3 separate regions of the Homo sapiens genome follow, and regions 1 and 2 are each linked to region 3. The links come from fine-mapping of genetic effects on gene expression. A gene starts in region 3. Each other region holds a variant in brackets. All regions are shown on one strand. Distances are from middle to middle.

The links. PIP is the estimated chance that this variant, and not a neighbour inherited with it, causes the effect.
Region 1: its variant is fine-mapped to the expression of ARHGAP42 in whole blood (TOPMed, PIP 0.98).
Region 2: its variant is fine-mapped to the expression of ARHGAP42 in tibial artery (GTEx, PIP above 0.99).

Annotation. Positions count from the first base shown.
Region 1 is chr11:100,591,019-100,593,781 of GRCh38, reverse strand. No RefSeq gene overlaps it. Among named protein-coding and RNA genes, the nearest start is that of ARHGAP42, 95 kb to the left of the region's middle. The variant G/A (reference allele first, on the strand shown) is at 1,244.
Region 2 is chr11:100,738,401-100,741,163 of GRCh38, reverse strand. The region is part of intron 1 of ARHGAP42 (Rho GTPase activating protein 42); the gene reads right to left. Among named protein-coding and RNA genes, the nearest start is that of ARHGAP42-AS1, 52 kb to the right of the region's middle. The variant A/G (reference allele first, on the strand shown) is at 1,349.
Region 3 is chr11:100,686,040-100,688,802 of GRCh38, reverse strand. ARHGAP42 (Rho GTPase activating protein 42) reads right to left here and starts at 1,515. Exons shown (of 24, transcript NM_152432.4): 1 at 971-1,515. The coding sequence starts at 1,124. ARHGAP42-AS1 (ARHGAP42 antisense RNA 1) reads left to right here and starts at 848. Exons shown (of 2, transcript NR_133571.1): 1 at 848-1,170. RefSeq lists enhancers at 751-1,120, 1,441-1,490, 1,204-1,914 and silencers at 1,141-1,310, 1,611-1,800, 1,851-2,145.

The DNA of each region.
Region 1 (2,763 bases), 95 kb after region 3:
CAGGTAATAAATTCTCAATAAAAAATAGCAATTATTATTATTTGCTTTATCTTCTTTTATACTTAAAATGTAGCAGACTTACAAAAACACAAATATGCGTCATATAGCTTAAATAGTAATGAGAAGAGGCCAAAACCAAACTATTGACATGCTTTAAACTGTACTGGGAGAAACCCAAGACATTCTGTTTATACTTTGGCCTTGGATCCAGTAAGCAACTGACCACAAGCTGCTGGATGAATGAACCGTGAGGATGTCAGGTGCTACTACACTGCTCAATGCAAATGCTTATCCAGGGGTCTCTGCAGTACTAACCACTTAGAAATGGCTCCATGCACAGATGGTCTGGGTTTCACTTCATTCAGTTTGTATAGTTTAGCATGGCCAATCTGTCACAGGGAATAATCCTACCCTAACCAGATGGAGGGATCAGTTCACCAAGTATTGTCTCATTCCCATTTCTAATGACTATAATTACATGAAACAATTTTTTTTTATCAAGCAAACATCTTTTACACTAAAAATAAAGCTCATGGTTAATTTGAAGGAATTCTTTGCCCAGGAGTTCTGGAATTAGTGAATGTCTTGTTGAGTGGGCAGCAGGGAACTGAGGGCCTGCCACCCAAAGTGAAAACAGGCCACAGTGCAATAGCAACCACTTGGGTAATTGGATGTGTATTCAGGGAAACCACAAGGTTGCCAAGGAGAAGTGCACTGCGATGCGCTGTTTAGAATAGAGCAAGTATTTTAGGGAGAGTAAAAAATATCCAATTCTATGTTGCCAGACATCATTTGTAAATATCTTTCTATCCTGGGAAGAAAGATGATATGCAAGCAAGTATGCCAATAACTCTTTTCAAAAAACACTTGTCAAAACTTGGCTAAGAAACCTAACATTGTCAGGGAAGCTGCTGCAAATGACGTGCTTCACTTTGTTAATATCCAACAGTTCTAGGGTTGCTAAACCGTGCTCTCCTCAGAGCCACTTTCTTGGAAGGCGTGTGAGTATTGATGTGGGTGCAACAAGTCCTGTGACTAGATTACCAGAGCTGGTTGTAATAACCTGGAAGACATAGGTGTAGCAGGTGCTGAAGGTGTTTTAGGCATGGGCAGCCGGTCATCCCCTAGGCTCCCTCCTTCCTATGTTCATCTCTTGACCCTTCCCTTTGCACACTCTCTGCTTCAGTTATTCTCTGCTGCTTGCAGTATCTACAACAGGTCATGTTCCCTGTTTTTCATTTCC[G/A]GCTGCCTTCTGCATGTTCTTTCCTCTGCCTGCTGGCAACACACCTGCTGAACTTTCCTCCTAGGTAATTCCTAGTTTCCCTTCAGGTCTCATTTTTCCTGAACACATCCTAAGATGCCTCCCCTCTGTTCTTCCATACCACCTGGTATTCCTACAGATAATCACTTGTCATATCGTCTATTACCTGCTCATTTTTCTGTCTCCCTATTAGCCTGAAACTCCTTGGAGGAAGGTGCTGGATTTTTTTTTTTTCAGTTAGATCCTTAATGCAGCAAGTTACTTAGGACCTAATGAGTGATCAATAAGTGTTTGTTTAATAGATGAATGAATAGATAAATAAGGGTGTTTCCTTGCAGCCTAAGAATACAAAAAAATTGACATGTTGTGTCAGCATGATACTAAAGAAATCAGACATGCTGGAAGTCAGACAAAAAGACTGGGTGGAAAAGGTTCACTCTAAGAAATCATATGTTTTAAAAGAATCTTAATGTATAAAGTGTTTCAAGAGTAATATAAAGAACTTTTAGTTCTTGAGCCATGTGGGACTAAGTTTCTGACAGGATGTCTCATCACCTCCAAATACTTTATTGTGTATTTCCAAAAAGCAAGAGTCTTTTCCAGTATGACACAATCCAGAGAATCAGAAAGTTAAATTGGATCACTATCTAATCCACAGGCCCAATTCCAGTTTTGCCAGTTTTACCAATAAAAGTCATTTATAGGAAATAGTCCAGCCCAGAATCAGGAATTGCATTTAGTTACCATCTTTCCTTAGTCGCCTTCAATCTGGAACAGCTCTGTAATCTTTGCTTGACTTCCATGACCTCGACACTTTTGACAGGCTCTTGTTTTTGTAGAATATTCCTTATTCTAGATTTGTCAGATTTTGTCATGATTAGGTTAAGATTAGACTAAATTGGAACATCACAGAAATGATGTTGAATTTTATCTTTGCATCATATTAGATGGCACATCATTTTGATTTGCTTTATTATTGTTTCTGTTAGCATTCATTACTTGAGCAAGGTGATATCTGCCAACCTTCTCCGCTGCAAAGTTACTCTTTTGTTCCTCTGTCTTAGAATGTTCTTGCTACTATAAAAAATACCTTGAACTTGGCAATTTATAAACAACAGAAATTCATTGCTTACAATGCAAGATTAAGGCGCCAGTATGTCACATGCAAAGACACACAGGCTCAAAGACAAGGGATGGAGGAAAATGTACCAAGAAAATGGAAAACAAAAAAAGCAGGGGTTGCAATCCTAGTTTTTGACAAAACAGACTTTAGACCAACAAAGATCCAAAGAGACAAAGAAGGGCATTGTATAATGGTAAAGCGTTCAATTCAACAAGAAGATCTAACTATCATAAATATATATATGCAGCCAATACAGGAACACCCAGATTCATAAAGCAAGTTCTTAGAGACCTTCAAAGAGACTTAGACCCTCACGCAATAATGGTGGGAGACTTTAATACCCCACTGACAATATTAGACAGATCACTGAGACAAAAAA
Region 2 (2,763 bases), 52 kb before region 3:
CACTACTCAGGAGGCTGAGGCAGGAGAATCGCTTGAACCCAGGAGATGGAGGCTGAAGTGAGCTGAGATCTTGCCACTGCACTCCAGCCTTGGAGACAGCGTGAGATTTCATCTCAAAAAAAGAAATAAATAAATAAAATTTCTTATTTTCTCTCTTTATGTAATCTGCAAAGGAGCCTTACAGTCAGTCAAATAAATCTGTCTGCTTTCCCCCTCAAGCCCATGGGACTAGAATAAGGCCACATGTCCCCTCTCCAGGAATAACTAATTAAAGTATAACCACAGATACCCTCTTTATTCTTCTCTTGATAGACATATTTTTTTTAAATAATCCAGTAAGTAACGTTCCAAAGCTTCATCAACCCTGTGCCAAACTTTAACAGTGGTTGAATCTTCCCTGGAGCAGCAAAATCTGACACTCAACAACAGGAGAGGCAGAAGGAGCAGCTGCCAGGAGCAATGTACCTACCCCATCGCTTTATCTTGCAACTGCTGGCACCATCCCCTTCACTTTCAGGAACCATTCTACATCAAACTCTGCTTTCCAAGAACTTTTCCTCTACACATTCCATTCTCCTCCCCCTATACCATAAAGCTTCTGGCTAATGTTCATGGCATGAATGATACTGCCTTCAAATGGCAAAGAATAGCACTTTAGTATCAGACAGACAGGTTCAAATCTTAGTTCCATGACTGACTAGCTTTTGTTCCTGGAGCAAATTAGTTAACCTGTTTTGCACTCTCAATTTTCTACATATAAAAGAACGCTAGTGCTCACTTCACAGTTTTTAGAAGATGGGAGAAATAAATTCAGTGCCCAAGTGTTTACTCAGCAAATACGTTTTTCTTCCCTTGTGCACCAAAGGAAAAAAAACTGAGGGTATCATATAAAATTTGGGAGAAGGGAGAGGCCATAGCATGACCAGGTCTTTTTTAAAAGTTTTATGTTCATAATAAAAGTCATGAAACAAGAGAATCTAAAGGTCTTAGCATTTTAGACTTCACTGTCAACAGGAAAACTTCCAGAAATCATACAAAAAGGATGAACATACACAGGCAAGCTTTAGTGAGTTGAAAATTAAAAAAAAAAAAAAAAATTGTACTAATAACCCTTTAACTTGCAGGCTGACACCAAGTAACTTTCTTTAAAAAATAATATTTCAACACGCAAAAAACAAATCACACACAAAATTTTTTCACAGATAGTCACCGTTCTAGGTAAAAGCCTTTGCCACTAGTATTTTTAAAAGCTGCAGCTGGACTGTGGGTCAGATGGCACTCAGCAGTTGTGTGTGTTGGGGGTGGGGTATGTCAGGAATGAATGCGGTTATCAAGGCATTTCTAAGTA[A/G]GGAACCCTTGGAACAACATTAGACTGAGGGTCATGGGAAAAGAAGTTATGCTCACCCTACTTCCTGGCAGCATTTTCAGTACACAAGCCATAAGCAACTCATGTTTACAAAAGGAACAAGAAAAGAGGGGCTTATTAGATGCAGAGGGGAGGGAGAAACAAAGTATAGATACACAGAATTATACCTTCGTACATTACATTTTAAAATTCTTTCTTTAAAAACTCTAGAAATAGTTTTAAAGATTTAGCACACTTCACTATGCAAAATATTTCATCCTGACTGCTTCAGTAAATCAAATTAGAGTATTTTTATCTAAGTTAATCACATAAATGAAACTCAATTAAGGAAAAGAAAACAAGCATGGTATATCTACTTTATCCTCTTTAGAACAAATTGCAATCTGAAGTTATTTTTGAGAGTCATAGAAAAAATGTTTCTCAGGATTTCAAAGTTTCAAATCAAGAGTTCTTCAGGTTAAAACAAGATTGTTTAAGAACCAAGTGAATGGTCCTGAACTTTAACTAAAAAAAAAAAATCCAAGAGTATTTTAATTACCAAAAGTCAATAGTTCCTTATTTTTTGATCACTTTGGTAAAACTCAGACAAAAGATAACCAGTTAATGAATCTCAAAACTGCTTCATTTAAAACAAAAACAAAAACAAAAAAAAAGACTCTAAGATAACTTGAACAGAAGAAAAAAGCCACTGTCAAATCTACATATTTCTGTTGTGCATTTCCTTGAGTTAATCCTAGAATTCTGGAAAATTATAAGCACTTTTCAAAAAGATCTCAAACTAGGTCTGGGCTTAACAAACAGCTTTTTTCCTAAGTTCTGAAATACATGCTTTCTTTATAAGCATGGATTTACCAATAGGAGTGGCCTCCTGATTGCTTCTGTGCTTGAATGCTATTAAATTAAACAGTCAGACAAAATATGGAGCATTGACCTTGGCAAGGAATGCAACGGGCACAGTTTGTTTTGCCCTGCTTCTTCTTAAAAAGAAAACAAAATATTCAAACTTGAAACGTAATAATAAACAGATTTCTACATGTTCACTTTATTTGTATTATAATAAAACACTTTGACTTCTTAACTACCTTTAGTAGTCAGCAGCAATAGTACTTCTCTAGCAACATAGTTTTTTACTTTATTTAGAGGAATAAATTGTTTGCAAGTTTTACATATATTACCCTCACTGATGAAAATCATGATACCTCTCATTATTCAAAAACAGGTAAATGGCCAAGAGCAATACTGCTTTGATGGAATTGCAAAATGAGAAAAAATATACATCTGATGGAATTAGTGAGTTACCTCTCTTTTGTCTGTAATGTCAGATCCTTTAGATGATACTCTTTTAAATCTAAAACAAAGCTGGCACTTCTTTGTTAGACTGCGGTACTGTGAGGTTC
Region 3 (2,763 bases):
GCCTCTATTAAGATGCAAATACTTTTCACAGGCTCCTTTGAAGATGGAAAATAAATAAATACATAAATAAATAAAAATAAATTTTTTAAAAGATGCAAATACCTCCTGGGAAAGGTAACAAGCCATATCATGTAATTGTGCTCAATTCTCTGTAAGAGAAACTCTTCAGTTTCAGATACTCTTAGGTCTTAGGAATTGAAAGCTAAGATCCAGAGGATAAAAGGAGGAAGGAAAATTTGATCAAGAGGTGTATGGGAAAGGAGGTGGAAGAAGCCCTATATTATAGACTATAACAGTCTTTATATTCTACAGATCATCAAAAGTTCTGATTGGCCTTTAACCCCTTAACTTTCATCCCAATGACACACCCAACACCCACACAATGCAAACCAAAACTAAGACGCACAGAAAACTTGCAGAGTTAAAATGCACTGGTGCCTTGCTGTCTTCCATTATCTTACAAAATGGCAAAACTGCAAATGTATGCTTTTTAAAAAGCCAACTCAATGACTGTGTCCAATGAAGAGCCACTGACGTATGAGAGACATTAATAATTTTCTTTCAATATCACTAAACTAGCCTAATTTTATCTTTAAGACAAACTCTTGATTCCCCCCTTAAGGGCTTTTTTAGTTCAAACTATTAATAGACACAATAAATTAAAAAAAAAAAATTAAAGTCCCCAACATCTTCCTAGGAGCATTACACAACGAGATGACTTTGAACGACTTTCCTCAGGATATATTCCAGTGCCCTGTAGAGAACTTTCCCCATCCCTGTAGACATGTGAGTAAGTAAAGAACACCTCAAGAACAAACTTTGTTGGCCACCAGCAGGGGAGCTCTTCAGCTTTTGTCCCCAAATCCATTCAAACAAAAGAAGCTCCGACTCCTCCAACCCACCCTTCGGACCCGCACCCCGCGGGGACTCTCCAGATGCGGGTGTCCACTCCCCCGCCAGCCCTACTTACTCCTCAACGCCCCAATGAGCAGAGAGCCGTCCTTAATGAGCTCCTTGATGAACTTGTTGGTTCGCTCCAGCTCAATCTCGTGACACTGCAAGCGCTCCCTGAAATCTGGGCTGTCCAAGTAGGAATCGCTGAACTCCAGAGTGGGCAGCCCCATGGCACAGGCGCTGCCAGCGGCGGCCGCGGACACGTCCGGGCCGGAGGTCAGGGCGGGGGCAGCCGGCGGCCGCGGCGGGCGCTGGGGTCGCGCGATCGCGGGGAAGGCGCCGGGACGCGAGGGGACTGATTGCGCGGAGGAAACGGGCCCCGAGCGCCGCGCCGCCTGCGCCGGGCTCAGTCTTCCTCCCCCGAGGCTAGGCGAGCGCAGGCGCGGGCGGCGGGCCGAGGCGCGAGTCCCCTCAGGTTGTTGTCATCTGGACGCATCGTCGTTCGGAACGCGGGGGCGGCGAGGCTCCGGGCCGCGGCCGGAGCAGGAAAGTTTCTCTCACGGCGCGCAGACACTTCCGGCAGTTCCACTCCCCAACTCTCTTGACAGTCGTCGGCGTTGTGAGCCAGAAGCAGCGCACAGCCGCAACTCCGGCCGGGCTGGGGAAACCCTCCCCCTCGGCGGACGCAGGCTCAGAGCGCTTGCAAATCGCACCCGGGCTCCCAGACCCTCCTCCCCGCCGCCGCGCTCCCACCCAGCGCCACCCCGCCCCTTCGCCCCTTTGCCCTCCTGCCCCACCCGTCCGCCCGCACTGGGCTCCAGGGCTCCCCGCGCTGCAGCCCCGCGCTTGCGCTCCGGCCTTGGCTGGGGTGTTAGCCCTGTCCCCTCTTGGGCCCCTGGTTTCGGCTAGCCCTTGGTGACACTTCGGGGTCCCTCGCTCCACAAAAGGATCTGACTCCCAATATACCTCCCCTAACAGTGTCCCCTCCACCCACTCCCTACAATTCTCTGGGAGAAAAACCAACGTTAAGTTTCCCTAAAGTCTGAGTATTTTGAAGCGTAGATGGAAGATACTACTGTCTAGCGTTCGTTTAGATTTTACTTCACACTTCCCCACCGAATGCATTTGAATTCCACGTTGAAAAATTGTCCCGTCGCTCTCCCACCCCTCAGCTTCAATGATCCAGCCTGGAGGTGTTTCTTCCCCCTGCCCCCACTCCATAGCTGGGAAGGTGGGACGATTTTTCAAGTCATCCTCACTCTGCTTACGTGCTCCTACTTCTAGTAGAATACCTATTTGCATCACAATAGTAGTATCTCCTATTGGCACCTGGATGGAATTGTCCTAGGAGCGGGAAAATTTTCAAATTGTTGAAGTGGACTGGAGTTTGAAATAAATAGTTAACTCCTACCCACAGGCTTTATCCTTCCTCCGGTGGAGGTTCACCTAATAAATTTCTGTTCTCTTAAAACCTTGACAGCAAAAGAAACGACTGCTTTACATCTCGTCCTGACATCATCTATAGGATTTCTGAGAACTCGGATATTGTTCTTAAGGATCTGCTTTTAATTTCTGCATTTTCATTGCTTTGTCCATATGAACCATCTGTTTAAAAACTATTCTACAGATCATGGGAAAAATTCCACTAAAGTGCTTTACATTTTTCCCAATTAAGTTTCAGAGCCAGTCAAGATTCTTGGTTTCAATTTTTTAAATGTACAGGAACATTAAAAATAACATGTAAACCTAAAACAGATAAGATAATGTAAACAGTATGGGCCAGGCGCAGTGACTTAACGCCTGTAATACCAGCATTCTGGGAGGCTGATGCAGGAGAATCACTTGAGGTCAGGAGTTGGAGACCATACT